Homo sapiens: one gene and its partners. The protein of the gene in region 2 interacts with the protein of the main gene of each other region in a biochemical or structural test. Each region holds a gene or a part of one and is shown on either strand. Other genes may lie near its edges. The genes, in order: TAP2, TAPBP and TAP1.

The links.
Region 1: the proteins of TAPBP (region 2) and TAP2 form a complex in vitro, tested with the Homo sapiens proteins (one study listed by BioGRID).
Region 3: the proteins of TAPBP (region 2) and TAP1 form a complex in vitro, tested with the Homo sapiens proteins (one study listed by BioGRID).

Annotation. Positions count from the first base shown.
Region 1 is NC_000006.12:32,824,915-32,828,860, forward strand, and holds the end of TAP2 (antigen peptide transporter 2), read right to left. Parts: 3' UTR 501-3,946; downstream 1-500. UniProt on the Homo sapiens protein: ABC transporter associated with antigen processing. In complex with TAP1 mediates unidirectional translocation of peptide antigens from cytosol to endoplasmic reticulum (ER) for loading onto MHC class I (MHCI) molecules.
Region 2 is NC_000006.12:33,311,079-33,318,757, forward strand, and holds the start of TAPBP (tapasin isoform 1 precursor), read right to left. Parts: upstream 3,001-7,679; 5' UTR 2,964-3,000; coding exon 2,927-2,963; intron 2,787-2,926; coding exon 2,616-2,786; intron 2,400-2,615; coding exon 2,139-2,399; intron 1-2,138. Other genes in the region: ZBTB22 (zinc finger and BTB domain-containing protein 22), read right to left, coding at 3,934-5,838; DAXX (death domain-associated protein 6), read right to left, coding at 7,665-7,679. UniProt on the Homo sapiens protein: Involved in the association of MHC class I with transporter associated with antigen processing (TAP) and in the assembly of MHC class I with peptide (peptide loading).
Region 3 is NC_000006.12:32,844,644-32,850,760, forward strand, and holds the end of TAP1 (antigen peptide transporter 1), read right to left. Parts: intron 5,875-6,117; coding exon 5,677-5,874; intron 4,476-5,676; coding exon 4,347-4,475; intron 4,198-4,346; coding exon 4,009-4,197; intron 3,450-4,008; coding exon 3,276-3,449; intron 3,033-3,275; coding exon 2,870-3,032; intron 2,562-2,869; coding exon 2,425-2,561; intron 1,858-2,424; exon of another isoform or gene 1,143-1,857; coding exon 936-1,142; 3' UTR 566-935; downstream 1-565. UniProt on the Homo sapiens protein: ABC transporter associated with antigen processing. In complex with TAP2 mediates unidirectional translocation of peptide antigens from cytosol to endoplasmic reticulum (ER) for loading onto MHC class I (MHCI) molecules.

The DNA of each region.
Region 1 (3,946 bases), 490 kb from region 2:
ATTTCTCATTCTGATTTTCCAATATTTTAGACAGATTTGTTATTGTTGTTTGTGTGTGTGTTTATTTTTCTCATCTTTGCTCCCTTATCCTTCTGGGTTTAGTATCTCTGTTACTTACATGATAATATTAAAAAGCAAATGATAACTACAATACAATGCTACTTTCACCCAGAAGATTGTCAAAATTTTAAAAATTAACACTGTCTGTTGGTTATATACATATATATATATATGGAGAAACAGATAAACTCATATGTTGCTGCTGGAACTATAAATTAATATAGCCTCTATGAAGGCAATTTTGCAATATCTATCAATATTTGTAATGTATATATTGGACTCAGCAACTCCCCTTTAAGATTGTATCATACTTGTATTTTTGCACATGTGCATTACAATGTCTATACAAGACTAACTAGCAACAGCAAAAGACTTCCAATAACCTAACTAGCCATCAGTAGAAGGAAACAGGATAAATGAAATATGGAACTTCCATAAAATAGAATACTACATAGCCATATATTTTTAATTTAAAAAATAAAGTTCAGAACAGTGAACTTAGACAGCTGCTGTTTGCGAAAATACTGAGCAAGAATAAAGATATACATATTTGCTTAATACACAGTAAACTTCTCTGGAAAGATAAACACAAAGCTGGAAGAACGGATTGCCTATGCAAGAGGAATTAGCAAACCTTGAGAAGGATTGAGAGTGAGGCTTTCCTCTGTATACTTCTTTGTGTCTTTTGAATTTCAAACCACATTCATATATTGCTTATTTAAATAAATAAATAATATATTTTAAAAAGAGGATAGTAGGAAGATAAGTGGAGTCAGGGAGTATAGGCAACTCTTTTGAGGAGTTTTATGCAAAGCTGGGCAAGTCCACCTCTTCCTTAGCTATGTGACCCAGGCAAGTTAGTAAATGTTTCTAAAACTCCATTTTCTCACTCTTAGAATTGAGATAGTAATACCTGCCACATAGAATTATCTTGAAAAATAAGGTAAGAAGACAGGTTTCAGATACTTGGCACAGCAATAGCACATAGTAAGCACCAGTGAATGCTTAGTAGTAGTAGTAGTCTAATTCCTAAGAGTCCATGGAACTCTAGGTTCAAAACCCAGTTTCTTCTGGGACCATTAGATGGCATCAGACTCAAGCAGGTGCTCCTCTAGCTGACAGCTCTAAAACACAAGGAAGATCTTTGTTTTCCTTATTCCCTAGTCCTTTCCCCACAAAATTCTGACAATTACGCATTTCCTGCTTGTTTCACAATTGCCATGTGGATTACAAGTGGCTATCCCTGGGTGGAGGCATAAAGGACTTGAAACTCAATGCTGTTTCCACATAGGGCCGGGCAGACAGGCTATGGAGGTGTTTTGGCATCCAAGGAAATCTATCAGTTTCCCAAGCTTTCCCCTCTCCATTCATACTTTCCTTTAGAAAGAATAAGGCATGCCTGGGTGGGAAAGATACTGCAGGTAAGCGACAAGAAGGGGAAATTACAGGGTAAGGAGATCAATCAAATGGTGATGGGGGGTAGGAGTGAACAAAAAGAACTCTGGAGCAAACCAGGATTAGTGACATCTGTGGTTCCCAGACAAACCACACTTACAGGAATTTGTCTGTCTAGCCCGAATATTTTGACTTTCAGGGAGCATTTTTCTGTGTCCCTGACATAAAGCCTACCTGGGAGTTTCCCCTGAGATAAGAAACTTTCAGGACATCTTAAGGTCTACTGCATCTTCCTGTACTGCCCATCAAGATAAGTTTTCCACCCAGCTTTATCATGATTAGCTGCGTGATTTCATGTCAGTTTCTCTGTAAAATTAGGTTTGACTGTTGCATTATTTTTAAGATGCCTTCCAGGCTTAAAGTATTATGATGCATGGGTATAACTGTACTGAGGAAATCAAAGAATTTCTCAGATCATCTTCTTCTGTGAGGGCTGCAGCTTCCATGTAGTTGGGAGATACAGGAATTATTATTCCTGTTTTATGAATAAAGGACATTTGTGGGAGAGAAAGGAATCAGGCCAGAGTTCTTTCTCTCCAAATGCCTATTTTACCCTCTGTGAAATTTGAGAGATGGATGGGTGTGGAGCTGCAAGTCAGCCCCAGGATGAAAGAAAGGCAAATCTGCACAAGAAACTGCCCACTCTCACCCCATCCTCACTGCACCCTGCTCCCAACAGCTGCCAGGCAAGAAAAAATCCAAAACAGCAGTTCTGGGGAATTCATTGCCAGCACTGGAAACTACCTGCTGTTTCCAGGAATATGAAGGTTTCTCTTTCCTAGAATAGCAACTTTCCAAGGTAAGTCCCTCCCAACAACCAGTGATGTGTACAATGTTGCATTTTCAGTGGTGGGAGTGGGCAGGGAGGATTAAGATTAGTACGATGGTGGAGATATTTATTCATTTATTCAATTGACTATTTATTCTCCACTATGAATTAGGCCCTCGGCCAGGTAGCAGATATAAAGCTTAATAAGATATATGGCTTTCCGCCCAGGTGCTCATGGTCTAGTGGAAGGTCAAAAAAGGTGGGAAAGGGAAGATAGAACTTTAAAAGGGCTGTGAAAGAGGTAACCGCACAGTGATAGAAGCACATGGAGAGTTCCCCAGACTGACGACATAAGTAAGGCCTCCTGGAAGACCTGAACCCTGAGTTAAGTCTTGAACTTGAAAATCAGGGGCGAGTCGAGCAGAAAATGGGCAAGAAAACACCATATGCAAAGGCACAAAGGTGTTGGGGAAGGCAGAAGTTTGTCGTGGAGCTGGATACAACAGGAGAGGGTGAGACAGATGGGCTGGAACAGTGTGTGCTCTGAAAAGGATCTCTGCAGCAGGGCTTGAGAGCACCTGAAGGAATTTCCAGAAATGCCATCATCGTATGTGACACAGAATTTAGAAAAATGACTTTGTGAAGAATGGCCGGAAGAGGGAAGCTAATGGTAGAGAAACCTCTCTGGTGATGGGATCATCTTAAGTCTATGAGTGAAGACTATAACAACGGGACTGGAGAGAAGAGAATAGATTCTGAATTATTTAGAGCTAAGAGCAGCAGAGCTTTTCTTGATGGGATTATGGATTAGGGTTTATGGACCCAAGATGCAATATAATTGATTGGGTCAGGGTGTGGACTCTAGGGTCAGGCCTGTGTTCAAACTCCAACTCCACCACTACGACCACCTTGGGAAAGTCATTGAGCCTCTTTGAGCTTCAGTTTCCTCATCTGTAAAATGGGGATAATAACCAACCTCATAGGGTTGGGGATAATGATTAAAAACGATAATACATGAAAAACACTTAGCATAGCTCCTACTCCCATTAAAACTCTATAAATGGTAGCTGTTACCAATGTCGCTATTAATACTGTTAATCAGGGAACTGTTCTCTGTCCCTCCAGACCCTAGCTTCTTCAAAATAGCAGACACTGGTAGGAACAAGGAAGGATATAGGAAGGCAATCTCATGAATATTTATGTCATTTTTGGTTAATTTCTATCTCAAACAACAGATAAACGACTGATGGGACAGGCAGCAAAATAGCAACTATGGTTATCTCCAGGAAGTGAAACAATGGGTACTTTTACTTTTCTTCTTTGTACTTTTTTATATTGTCTAAATTTTCTATATGAATGTATACAGTTCATGTAAGAAGGAAAATATTTTAAAATATATGTATTATGCCACAAAATACTCCTCATCACCAGGCAAAGCTCTAGTCACCAGGGAATTAAGTTTCCTGGACACAGACAGCCCCCACCCCACCCCACCCCACCTCTCTACCCCACCAAAAGCACACAGTGTCCAAATCTCCATCGTGCCTGCAACTCAGGAACAGCTATCTGGCCGCACAGCTCTAGGGAAACTCAAAGCAGGAACAGCTCTGGGTCCTGGAGACGCCCCTGAGAAGAGGGCCCAGTATCCCTGGGGCCTCAGTC
Region 2 (7,679 bases):
GGCCAAGGTGGGTGGATCACCTTAGGTCAGGAGTTCAAGACCATCCTGGCCAACATGGTGAAACCTGTCTCCAATAAAAATACAAAAATTAGGTGGGCGTGGTGGCACAAGCCTGTAATCCCAGCTACTGGGGAGGCTAAGGCACAAGAATTGCTTGAACATGGGAGACGGAGGTTGCAGTGAGCCAAGATCATGCCACTGCAACTGCACTCTAGCCTGGGCAATAAGAGGGAGACTCCGTCTCAAAAATAAATAAATAAATAAATAGCAGGCAGGCGCAGTGGCTCACGCTTGTAATCCCAGCACTTCGGGAGGCGAGGTGGGAGGATCACCTGAAGTTGGGAGTTCGAGACCAGCCTTACCAACATGGAGAAACCTCATCTCTACTAAAAATACAAAATTAGCTGGGTGTGGTGGCAGGCACCTGTAATCCCAGCTACTCGGGAGGCTGAGGCAGGAGAATTGCTTGAACCAGGGAGGCGGAGGTTCCGGTGAGCGTGAGATCACGCCATTGCACTCCAGCCTGGGCAACAAGAGCAAAACTCTGTCTCAAAAATAAATAAATAAATAAAATAAAAATAAATAAATAGCACAGCACCTTGCTTTGACCCCAGTTGTTTGTGAAATACAGACAATCTTACCACCCGGGCACTTCCAGGGCTCCCTGTCTGCATGTCCTTCACTTTCTACTTTACATTAGGATTATCCGTGGCAAATACGCCCAGAACCTCCTGGAGAGCAGAGTCTACATCAGATCATCTTTGTGACCCTTAAGGGCACCCAGGGCCACCCCAGAGATTCTGATTTAATCGGCCAAGCTAAGCATGGGATTGAATCAGGTTTCAGTATATTTTAGAAACCTCCAACAGTGTGGACTGAGAACTGCTGAGTCCTAACTCATTCTTGGTGCTAAAAAGTATTTATTGAATCAATGGATAAATTAACACAGTGCCATCTCTTGATAGTCACAACAAGAAAAGCAGCTGGGAAATAGTATCCACATTTTACAGTTGGAAAAACAAACTCAGAAAGCAAAGACCATTCTCATCATCACCTCGGTGGAGCCAGTAGCCCTAGGAAATATTCCACCCCACCAGAGAGAGCTACTGTCTACACAAGAGCAGTGTTCCTCAGCTTCTGCCAGGGTGGGGGCTTGAGACTAAGAATGGAGGTATAGGCAGAGGTGAGGGTTTCAGCGTGGGTTTCAAGTCTGTCTCCCTGGTTCTGTGGGTAATTCTCAGGAGGGTGGAGGGAAGGGAGGGTGCAGGGATTGGTTGGGGTTGCCCTGTCCATCGGGCTGTGTCGCTGACATAAAATCCAGATAGAAAAGCTAAGAACTCTACCGGTATTCTACCCCGGAATACCCCGCCTCCGCTGCCAGGAGGGAGAGCTCCCAGATATCCAGGTCAGACTCTCCTCATTCTTGAATTATCTGCACAGTCCCTCCCACGTCCCAGCCTAGAAAAGCTTCTGACTCCTGGGCCTCAAACTGCAATGCACCTTTCAGTGCAATAGGAGCTATCCAATCTCCAGCCGCGTCCATCCGCCCACTCGAGCCCACCTGTTTGCGGACCACAGAGCGGCAGCACATCCCTACACGGGGCTGTCAGGCAAGGTCAACGCGCTAGAGTGCAAGAGCCTTTGCTTTGCGGATTGCCGCAGCGCCGGGTGTGGGCGCAGGTGGGGATAGAGTGCTGGGTTTTGAAAGAGTGACCCGCAAAGCTGAGGGTGCAGAGCAAGACACAGATCTGGGAAGAGCAGAGAAAAAACGCTCCTGCTTCTGAACCCCTCCCACCTCGCATCACCTGACAAGTCTCTCAAGGTCTGGTGTCGGGAAACCCCACCTCTTCAAAGCCCCGCCCTTCGAAACACCAGAAAGTAACCCCCCTGCCCGGCCCTGCTTTCCCCCTACCCCCTGCCAAGCTGCAGTTTTTTTTTTGTTTTTTTTTTTTAACTGGGTGAGGGCTAGAAGGAGCGGTAGAGATTGATTCATTCTAGCCAAACCACCTCTCTTAACAAAAAAAGGAAACTGAACCCCGATTGGCGAAATGTCTTGCTCAAGTCCATAAAGCGAGACCACCGGCTGATCTGGACCCTTAGAATCTACCCACCCTTCTCCACCTCCCCTCCCCAGCTACCTGTTGCCATGGTGATGAGAACAGGCTCCTGCTGAGGCTCTGGCTGTGGTCGCAAGAGGCTGGAGAGGCTGAGGACTGGGCTGGATATGCTGACCATCAGCCAAGCCCCATCCAGGGCCCGCGGGCAGTTCTGCGCGGGGGTCAGGCCGCTGGCCCATTTCGCAGAGGCGGGGAGAGGCACGAAGCGGCTCATCTCGCAGTGTGGTGCGGGGGCGCCCCGGGGATACCGCCTGAAGGCAGCCTGGAGGGCGCCCGCGGGGTCTGAGTGTAGAGAAGGAAGTTGCAGCTGTAGAGTCACCGCCGGGAAAGGGGCTGGAAGGGCAGCGTTCGGGGAACTTCAAATGCACAGACTACCCCGTAGTGAGACTCACTTTACAAAGGGGAAGCTGAGGCCTGAGGTCACTGCCGGATCTAAAGAGGAGGGGGTTTCGGTGGAGGCGACAGAGGTAGGGGGGCGGCGAGTCCCTAGAGACTCACCGTGTACACTGAGATAGAGCTCAGGGTCGAGGTCCGGCCGGGGCGGCGGTTCCCCCGGTCCCTGGCGCAACAGCAGTGCACCGGGTCTCTTGGCCAGGCCCTTTCCGCTCGCATCCTCCACGAACCAACACTCGATCACCGCGGGTCCTGCTGAGACGGCGGTCGCCAGGCCTGGCGTATAGGGACGCGAGTGAGGAGCGGTTTGTATGTCTGGTGACCTGCCCCACTCCCACCCTGGCATCGGCTCCAGTGGGGCCACCTCCCTCCGCTTCCCTCTAGTTCTTGGGCGATGAGTCGCGGGGTTCGCTCACCCAAAGCCACAGCGAGGAGCAGAGACAGGGACTTCATGGCGCTGCGACCTCCTCAGCCATGAAGCCTCCTCTTCCTCCTTTCACTTTCACTTTCCTCCAAAGGGCGGCATGAGGGGCGGTGGAAATCCCCGCTCTGGTTAGGTGAAGGTGCCTGGGGGACCGGTGTTTCCCCACTGGCCAGGCAGGGACCCGGGTAGATCCTCTCCAGTTCTCACCAGGACACCCCAGCCTTACCGCGCCCTCCTGGACTACCCAGCAGCCCCGAGTTCGAGCCCTCCCCAACCCCAGGCCCTCCCCCGCCCCCCAACTCCTGTGTGTGCTCTCCAACATCCACTTGCCCGAAAACCATTACTCCGGCTTCCCCCTATCTGTGCCGCGTCCCCAGCAAACACACGGGTTATCGGGAAGCCAAGTAAATGACCAATAAATATTTTAATCACTGTTAAAAAAAATAAAAACCTTGTACTCCTACGACTTACTCCCTCCTTGTCTCCACCCACTCCTCCATGAGAACCGAGTTGGGAATTTCCACGGGAAGTCGGGGGTGGCGGGGAGAGACAGGGTAGAAATAAAGAGCGCATCCTTGAGAGGGGGTAGGTTCTAGGACAAGGGTGGGGCTCAAAGGCCTTGTCTCCACGACAACACAAACACAGACTTCAGGCACAGACTACAACCACCTGACCCCTGACCCTGTGACTGCAGGATGTTCAACACGCCCCCTCTCCCTCCCTCCATGTGCAATCTACTCTGTGGAGCAGGGGCTTCAGTGTACCCATCAGAGGGAAAGGAAGGGTTTAGTTCTGGAAATACCTTGGGGGGGAGGGGTTGAGTAGTAGAATGGGCGGGCGATGGTGAAACTGTGGTTCCCCTTCCAGAATATATACAAGTCCACAGAGATAAAGGAAGACAGTAAGTGTGGTGGGAGATCACCCGGGGGCCACAGCGCCCTTGCATCGTGCTCCTTATTCCCTTTCCCGAAAGCTACCCCACCCCAGTAGCCTGCCCCTTCAGTTTGCTCCTCCACCTCCACCGAAGCCCATCTCCACCTTGTGGACTCTGGGTGGGGACCAGACACGTCTGCTGGACGGGGGCGTGGCCGCACTCGCTTCGTCGCCGCTGCCCCCGCCCACTCCGGGAGACTCTCTCTTGGACGGCAAGGATGGCCCCGTGGGAGTCCCAGGCCCAGGTACGGCCCCGACCCCGCCCAGGCGGTGCCGGCGCTCACAGTGTCCTCGGTGGCGCATGAAGCTGTCTCGCCACATGAACTTCTTGGCGCAGACTCCGCACTCGTAGGGCTTGAGACCTGTGTGCGTCTTCATGTGCTCAGTCAGATGGTGCTTCATCTTGAACTTTTTGTTGCACACGGGGCAGTCAAACGGCCGCAGATTGAGGTGCATGTTCACGTGCCGGTCCCGCATGCTCTTGTGGGAGAAGGCCTTCCCACAATGGCACAGAAAGATCTTATTCCCGTCCCCACTGCCAGTCCCTCCAGGGACCCCACCAACGCTACCCGGCACACCCAGGCTCCCCACCGACGTGCCCCCCACGGTCACTGCCCCGTGTTCTGCTTGGTTCCCTGGTGGTTGGCCAGGAGCCTGTGAGGATGAGGATGAAGACGACGACGGGAAGACCAGGATCTGGTTGCCCTGCATGTCCAAGGGAAGGAGCGGTCGAGGAGGGTGGGAGGGGGCATAGGAAGAGGGAGTTGGCCCCCCTGAGTCATCAAGACCTGCCACAGGACCCCCACCCTCATATGGGCCAAAGTCATTGGAGGACTCACAGAAGTTGACCTGCTCCTCCCCCTTGTCTGGGGGCTCACTCAGGGTACGGACATCACTTATGCTGAGGGTAGCCTCAGGCCCTCCCCCCACTGGAACCCTGGAGCTACCCCCTAGTTCTTCATCTTCATCATCCTCACAGGTCAACACCAGATCTTCCTCCTCCTCTTCCTCCTCCAGATCTGGGTCTTGGGGAACCAGGGGTGTTGGCGCTGGGCAATTACCACCTCGCTTCACGTATACCCAGTGTTTCTGTGGCATGATGCTAGGGGGTGTGTAGGTGGGTCTCCGGAGCCCAGCCCCAGGAACCACTGCCCCCCTCCCATCCCCACCATCATCGCACAGCTCATCTGCCTCCAGCAGCAGCTTTCCAGATGTGGCCCCTCCACTGCCAACGACAGGGGCTGGGAATACAGGGCCACCTCCTCGACGCTCCCCACTGCCCACTGCAGAAGCTGCAAATGCCTCTTGGGAGGAAGATGAGAAATCAGTGGACTCCCTGGGGCTGAAGTAGTTGCTGCTGCTGGGAGATTGATTCTCACTGGCCCGGCTGGAGGCATGGGAGCGCGCAGAGCCCATGGTAGCAGGGGCCACAGTGCCCCCACTCCCGGATGGCACCCCAGCACCAGGGACAGTGACAGAGGTGGCTGCAGCAGTAGTGATGGTGGTGGTAGCTGAGGCCCGGCCTTCTCGGAGTAGTTCAGTGCACTTGTCCACAATGTGCCACATTTGGAGCACAGACCCCACTGTAAGGAAGTTGACAATGTCAGCAGCAGCCATGCTGAGGCGGCCAGTGTAAGCGGAGGCTAGGACAGTCTCAAAGGCGCCTGGGTCCATGACACTGGGCAGCGAGATGGAGGTCATGCCTTTGAGTAGGACCTGATCATGGAAGTAAGGGGAGGAGGCAGCCAGGACAGCCCGATGAGCCCGGAACTCCCGGCCCTGCACTCTGATAGATACATCGCAGAGCTGGCCCTGCAGACGCTGCTGATTGAGGGACTCCAAGAGGGCACTGGTCACCTCAGGGAAGGACACATGTACCACTGCAGCTGCTGGCAGGGGTAGTGGGGGCGGAGCCAGCGACAGCGGCAGGGGAAGTGCTGCCCCACTGGGAGACAGAGGAGATGGCTCCATGTTGTGGAGGGAGGGGATACCCCCCCAGCCACAGGAACAAAGAAAGGAGGAGGGCGGCCGGGGGGGTCTCTGGGAAGAAAAAGAGAAAAGAATAATGATAACATCTCATAACGACACAGCCCGTTACAACTCAAAAATATGTTCACGCTCATTATCTGTGTAACTCCCCACAACAGTGAGGTAGGTATTCCTCTCAACCCCATTTGACAGATGAGGAAACTAAAGCTCAGAAAGATTAAGAGATTATCCAAGGTCACACAGCAAGTGGCAGCGCCAGCAAACACAGGTATCTGACAAATCTTGTGCCCTTTCCTTGGAGGTTAGAGAAATAAGGTGCTCTTAGGGGCTGGAGTGGCTTCCTTCGGAATTATACCCTATTTCCGACTTACCTGAGAGCCTGACATTCCAAAATCTACCTTTTTGGTGTTTTGCACCCACTTTTTGGGAGGGGGCAGGGCAGCTCTGCTACTGAAAACCAACGCTTGCTCCATCTCCCCTCAGGCTATGCCCCCCAAGCTCTCTCGCCGACCACGCCCCCTTTCGCCCCAGCTTCTCTAGCCCCGCCCCTTTCCAGGCCCACCCCCCCGTGCCCCGCCCACTATCGGGCCTTTCGACCCCGCCCCTTGTCTACCTCCGCCCACAACGGACCCCGCCCCCCCCCGCTCCGCCCCAAGCGCTACCTCGGCCTCTTCTCCCACCCGGAAGGCGCCCCCCAACCTCGCGCGTCCCCGCTTACCGGGCCGCGCGCCCCCGGGCCCCCCCCGCCCCTCACTCGGCGGCCAGAGCAGCAACCTGGGCCCCTCCCGCCGCCATCTTGCGCCGACTCCCTCCGCCCTCCGCCTCCGCTCCGCCTCCCGCCCCTCCGCCTTTAAAGGCACAGCCGGGCACCCCGCCCGTGCCGCTGGGCAATACTCGGCCGACTCGGCCACTTTGCCTTTAAAGAAACATCGCCACATTCCACCTTAAAAGATCAGGTCCCCTCCTCCGCTGGGAGCTCAGGACTTGGTTCGGCCGAAGCATTTATTCCCCTTTAAAGCTATAAGCCTGCCTTTTCCCATTGGCGATGGGTCCAGGTATCGTTCCCCAGGCTCCGCCTCTGAGCTGTGACCATTAGCTGGTTGGTGGGATCTAATCGCCCTCTTCCTAGCTCCTTACAGTCCCACTGAAGCCCCGCCCCCTTTCTCCGGGCCTGGATTGGCTAAATAACCTTGAGTCGGCCCCTCATTGGCTTTCTCACTCCTACTGCACGAAGTGAAAAAGTAAAGTGCGTTAAGGCGGCTGAAGCACTTAAAAAAAAAAAAAAGTACTGCCTGAACAACGTGGCGAAACCCCGTCTCTACAAAAAATACAAACAACAAAAACAAAAATTAGCCAGGCATGGTGGCACGCGCCTGTAGTCCCGGCTACTCGGGAGGCTGAGGCATTATCGCTTGAGACTGGGAGGTCCAGGCTGCAGTGAGCTGTGATCTCACCACTGCACCCTGGCCTGGGCGACACAGCGAGACAAAAAAAAAAAAAAAAAAAAAAAGGCCAGGCTAGAAAGGACAGAGCGGGACTACCCCGGGGATACTGGGCTAACCCTGAGCAAGGGGACAGCTAATGCCAATCTGTAACAGTAGAAGGACAAGAAAAAGACAGTGATACAGTAAGAAAAGAACTTTATTGTTTATTAATGTTTCTGTGTAAAACTTAAGCTTTTTTTTTTTTTTAAAGAAACACCACCAAAAGGGGATTAGCTTAGTCCATCCCTTCCTCAGTCATCTGCTTCCCACCTTCCTCCAAATGTTATCCCAGAACATTCTGGAGGCAGGGAGAAGGGGAGGCAGCTAATCAGAGTCTGA
Region 3 (6,117 bases), 470 kb from region 2:
GCGTTGCTCCCTGCTTGGCTGAGCACTGCGGAGTTTCACGCCTCTAAACCCCGCCTCTTCTTGCAACCTGTGTTGGCCTCATCTACCCAGCAACTGTCGACGTCACACGACCTGGGCCTCCCTGAATGGGAGATATTTACTAGGCAATCCCGCCTACTGTTCTGAGGTTTCCCCTCCAGGTGCAGCTTCAGAGCCAGGCGAGCCAGGAAGGACCAGCGGGCGAGGTGGTGAGTTGTGAGGCGCGCCCAGTCCCTCTGTTCCCGCCTGGCACTTGCTCTGGCCGCGCCCGCCCCATCTGCCACTTCGGAGAGGCCACGGCTCTGAGCTGCGGCCGCTAGTGCCCTGATGGGCCCTGTGGCTGGGGTCTTGCACATTCTTGGGGGTGGGCCTAAGGGGATAGGGGAAGTGGAAGGGGCCTCATAGGAATTAAAAAGCTTAAGGGAAAAGGTGATGCAGTTAGGGGGTAAAACATTGAGGATGATAAAAGAGGAGACATCCGCAGCTGAAAAGTGCGCTGCAAAAGGCAGTGGGCCGTTTGGTGTGCCGGAAACATAAGAAACCACAGTACAAAACACCAATTTTATTATAAATATCAAGAACCTACAGGGTGTTTATGGGCCAGCATATGCCTTCAGTTATGTTGAAAATAGCTGATCATCTTTCCGTACATTCTGAACATTTCTCAGTTTCAGAGTGCTGGCCACACCAAAGCATCAGCCCTGGCTCTAAACTCCGTTACAGTAAGGAATTACAAATCCTGTGTTTGTACTCCAGGAAGTCTGCATTATCACGAGGAGCTTGGAAAGGAGGTAACACACTCAAGGCAAATTTCAAGTAACTCATCCTGGAGGCAGCTGCCTACTCTGCAGCTGTGGTTCTCCACCACAGAGAGAAGAAAAGGGAGGGAGATGGAGTGCGCAGGTCTGAGAAGGCTTTCATTCTGGAGCATCTGCAGGAGCCTGCACCATGGCCCAGTAGCACCCCTTTTTCTCCATGAGCTGCTGGTGGGTTCCCCCCTCCCGGATAGCGCCTCCTTCCAGAAAGAGGATGTGGTCAGCCTGCTCCACCAGGCTGAGGTGCTGGGTGATGAGAAGCACTGAGCGGGAGTACCGCTCAGGGCTTTCGTACAGGAGCTGCTCCACCTGAGGAAAGACATCGGACCGTCAGAGCCGGGGACTACCCTCAGCCCAGGGAGACACCTGTGTTTCCAGGGCTGGGACTGACCTCACAGGATCACTGCTGGCTCTGCTAACAACCCCAAGGACACCAACGTTTCCCATTCTGAGTACTTCTCCGCAAACCCTTTGTTTCATTAAGGACTGTTTTACATGAAGGGTGCAAAAGTAGGATAAAAATGAGAACCCTAGGGTGAAACACGTGACAGAAGAATAAAGACTATTGAATAGTCCTCTTCTCTACCCATGGACTTGGCATTTTTATATTCGATTTTAAGGAAATATAACTTAGTAGTAAAGAGATGAGCATTCAAGTCAGGCAGACCTGAATTTGGGTCAAGGCTGCGCCACTCAAAAGCTATATGACCTCTATATGAGCAGCTTATTCAACCTCTTTTAACCTCCATTTTGTCATCTGTAGAATGATGATAAATGCCTAGCTCAGAAGGATTCCTAATGAATAAATGAGTGACAGTGCATGTAAACAGACTAGCTTAATTAATATTAATATGATTAGGATGGGCTGGGCCCGGTGGCTCATGCCTATAATCCTAGCACTTTGGGAGGTCAAGGAGGGAGGATCACTTGGGCCCAGGAGTTCAAGGCCAGCCTGGGCAACATAGCGGGACGCTGTCTGTACAAAAAATAATTTTTTTAAATAAACGATATTATGAGGATGGTCTTTTCCTTATGTTTCGCTTTAGAAATTCAGTCTATAGGACTGGGCGCAGTGGCTCACACCTATAACCCCAGCCCTTTGGGAGGCTGAGGGGGGCAGATTACCTGAGCTCAGGAATTCAAGGCCAGCCTGGGCAACATGGTGAAACCCATCTCTACTAAAAATATAAAAGTCAACCAGGCATAGTGGTGTACACCTGTAGTCCCAGCTACTCGGGAGGCTGAGGGGAGAATCGCTTGAGCCCAGCAGGTTGAAGCTGCAGTGAGCCAAGATTGTGCCACTGCGCTCCAGCCTGGGCAACTGAGTGAGACACTGTCTTAAAAAAAAAAAAGGAAAGAAAGAAAGAAATTCAGTCTGTAGTTTGTAGATAGTCTCTTTTAACTGATTCTAGGTGTCTTTGCCTCGTCTTCTATCTCTACTCCTTGGGGAGGCATCCAATGGAACTGGATTTGGGAACTGAGAACTGCAAGGACTGGTTTGTATAATTATGATGTTAGTAAAACTAACAGAAGATGTATAAAAGAAGCAAGATTGGGTGGGATATAGCCATTAAGAAGATGACTGCCTCACCTGTAACTGGCTGTTTGCATCCAGGGCACTGGTGGCATCATCCAGGATAAGTACACACGGTTTCCGGATCAATGCTCGGGCCAACGCCACTGCCTGTCGCTGACCCCCTGACAGCTGGCTCCCAGCCTCGTCTACCTCTGCAGAGCAAAGGGCCAAGATGAGAACGGTATAGCCACATGTGTGCACGCATGTACATGCACACAGACACACTCATGCATTCACGCACTCACACACACCAAGATCTGACGGTTGTAGCTGGATAGGGGAGATTCTGGGAAGATGAACAGAATCCTGAGGATGTCAGGATGAAGAAGCCATAGGAGCATGATCTTACAACTTCAAATTGATGTCCATGAGTAAGGAGGAACTGAAGGATAAAGGCAAGACTACTGGGGTTTCAGCAAAGGTAAAGATGGCTGGGTGGTGAGATGAGTGGAGAGAGTACCTGTGTCATAGCCCTGAGGGAGTCCAGAGATGAAACTATGGGCCCCAGACTTTACTGCAGCAGCTGTGATTTCCTCCATAGTTGGCTTCTGGGTCAGGCCATAGGCAATATTTTCTTGAAGACTTCTTCCAAATACCTGTGGCTCTTGTCCCACTGCAGCCACCTGAGATGAAATATGATGAAGAGTCATAGAACAAGGCACATGGGAGTATGGTTATCTAGAGATCGAAGACTCAAAATCTTTATTGAGAACATGTCACAAAATCATACTACCTCCCTCCTGACTACACCACCATCTCCACCCAAGGTCTCTTATCATTCCCTAACCCCTCTTTCAGAGTGCTCAGTAAGAATGCTCTTCGTATTTGATGCTCCCTGCCCTCCTTCAAGCCACCTGCTTCCATACCTGCCTGTGCAGGTAGCGGTGCTCATATTGGGGAAGGGGCTTCCCATCCAACAGCAGCTGTCCCCCGGTGGGCTGGTACAGATTCTGCAGCAGGGCAGCCACTGTGCTCTTCCCAGACCCATTGGGTCCCACCAGCGCCGTCACCTCGCCAGGGCGTAGGGTGAATGTCAGCCCCTAGAGGCCAGAGAAGCACACGATAAGAGGCTACCAAGGCCTCTAACCTTGAGAGTGTCATTGCCTTGTTACATAGCATGATGTCTTACCCCAGAAGAAAAACAGGGAAATATAGAAACTCCTACCCTCCCACATGCACAGATTTCTGGGTGATGCCTCCCCAAGGAGTAGAGATAGAAGAAGCGGCAAAGACAAGGGCAGAGACCCAGCACCACTATGCCACACACTTGATGTCAGATACCACCAGGAAAGGGAAAAATCACATTCCAAATTACAAAGGAAAAGGAAAGATGGAAGACCGAAGACACAGATTTTGCTGCAGCAATTCCTTGGAACGTGAGAGCACTCTCTTCGAAACCTCTTCTCTCATTCTCTTTGGAAGCCCAAACTGGGTTCTTGAGTTTGGGGAAGATTTATGGAACAGATGATGCCTACCATTGCCTTTAAAGGGTTAGGGAGGATATATGCTTGGCAGTAAGCAGGCTGAAGGCAGGAAGAAAATTTAGGATGGCAGAATTGCAGTTGGGGCCAGTGGAATACAGGGAGTGGTAGGTTGTACCTGTAGCACTAAGACATCTGGGCGGTTTGGGTAGGCAAAGGAGACATCTTGGAACTGGACAAGGCCCTCCAAGTGTAAGGGAGTCAACAGACCACTGGGTGGGCAGCGAGGGGTGCGGTCCAGGTACTCAAATATTTTCTCTGAGGAGCCCACAGCCTTCTGTACTCTGGGGTAGATGGAGAGCAGTACCTAGAGGGAGGTAAGAATAGTGAAAGTGAGGTAGTCTGCTTGCCAGCATTATGTGAAGCAAGAAGGGTAAAGAATGGAAGGACATCACACAGATGGTGCTGGGCCAGAGGAAGGAATCACACTGGGGAGTGAAGGTGGAGGGACCTCACCTCCACAGCCTGGGTGAACTGCATCTGGTAGAGAACAAATGTGACAAGGTTCCCACTGCTTACAGCCCCACTGGTCACCAGCTGCCCACCAATGTAGAGGATTCCCACTTTCAGCAGCATACCTGAAATCTATAAAGAGACCACAAAAAAAGGGACTGAGGTAGAGAAATCTGGAGGGGACACAAAGAACCGCAGTCATTAACCTGAAGGAAATATCAAGTCCCTGTCTCCTAAGTGACATCGGCAGGCTCAATAGGCAGACAGGAGAATGAACCAGAGACCCCATGGAGTCTGACTCAATGCACATCATGCAAGTCACAGTTATCTTCACCACCATCACCACTATCACCTTGTCTGGGGAGCATTTTACTCTTCACAAAAGGCTTTCATTCATGTGATGTCAGCTAATACATGAAGAGCCTTATAAAGAAGGTTATATCACTCCATTTTTGAAAAATGAGGAAACAACCAGTCGGGCGCAGTGGCTCATGCCTGCAATTCCAGCACTTTGGGAGGCCGAAGTGGGCGGATCACAAGGTCAGGAGATTGAGACCATCCTGGCTAACACGGAGAAACCTCGTCTCTACTAAAAATACAAAAAAAAAAAAAAAATTAGCCGGGCGTGGTGGCGGGTGCCTGTAGTCCCAGCTACTCAGGAGGCTGAGGCGGGAGAACGGCGTGAACCCGGGAGGCGGAGCTTGCAGTGAGCCCAGATCGCGCCACTGCACTCCAGCCTGGGCGACAAAGCGAGACTCCAGCTCAAAAATAATAATAATAAGTAAAAATAAACAAACAAACAAACAAATAAATAAATAAAGAGGAAACAGTCTCAGAGAAGGTAAATTTGTTGTCATGATCACAAGACAAGTAAATTGCATCATCAAGCCAGGATCTTCGGATCACTGGCGTAGCTCTCTTTCCAGTGCATCACAGATGTCCCTCATCCCTGGCTTCCACTATTCCCATCACTCTCACTAACAAATCTACAAGGTACCAGCATGAAGCAGTCCCAGGTGCAAGAATTTATGGCGCCCTGCACTTCCCCTGAGAGGCAAAGGAAGGCCCTAGGACTGGAAGACACGCATCTCTCCAATCCACATGGTTGGGTGGATTTTATGTACCATACTGAAAGGAAGCCACCTAGCATCTTTAAAGAGAGGGAGGGGGCTAGGGACACTGAGTAGAGTCATTGAGCCTCAGGTTGCTAGGACGAAAATACTGAACCAACCATTTCCCAGTAAAGGAGGAGTGGGAGCAGGGTCATAGGAATGGGAATGGAGTCACGGCATCTTAAGGACAAGGGAATGGGTATTCATCTTCAGGTGCTCACACTAGTGGTCCAGGAGTTGACTGCATAGGCCACAGCCTCCTTCTGGTTGAGTGTCTTTATTTCTTGCAGCTTTTCCCTAAACTTCTGGGCTTCGCCCTCCTCGTTGGCAAAGCTTCGAACTGTAGGCATGGCCGACAGAGCCTCAATGGCCACCTGGCTGGACTTTGCCAGAGATTCCCGCACCTGCACTTCCAGCAACTGTGGATACATGGACAAGAGATGTCACACGGGTTGGCAAACCATCAGGGACACTAATACCTGAGTTACCTATTTGGAAATTAAAGGTGAGAAGAGACAGAGGAAAAGGAGAAAAGAGAAAGAGACACAGCTATGCCCCTTGGATGCTAAAGAAATACGAGGAAGAGGAAAATGACTCAGAACGGGTTGGGGATCAAATTCTTAAAGACAGATTGTGGGGAGAAGCTAGAAAAGAAGACCCAG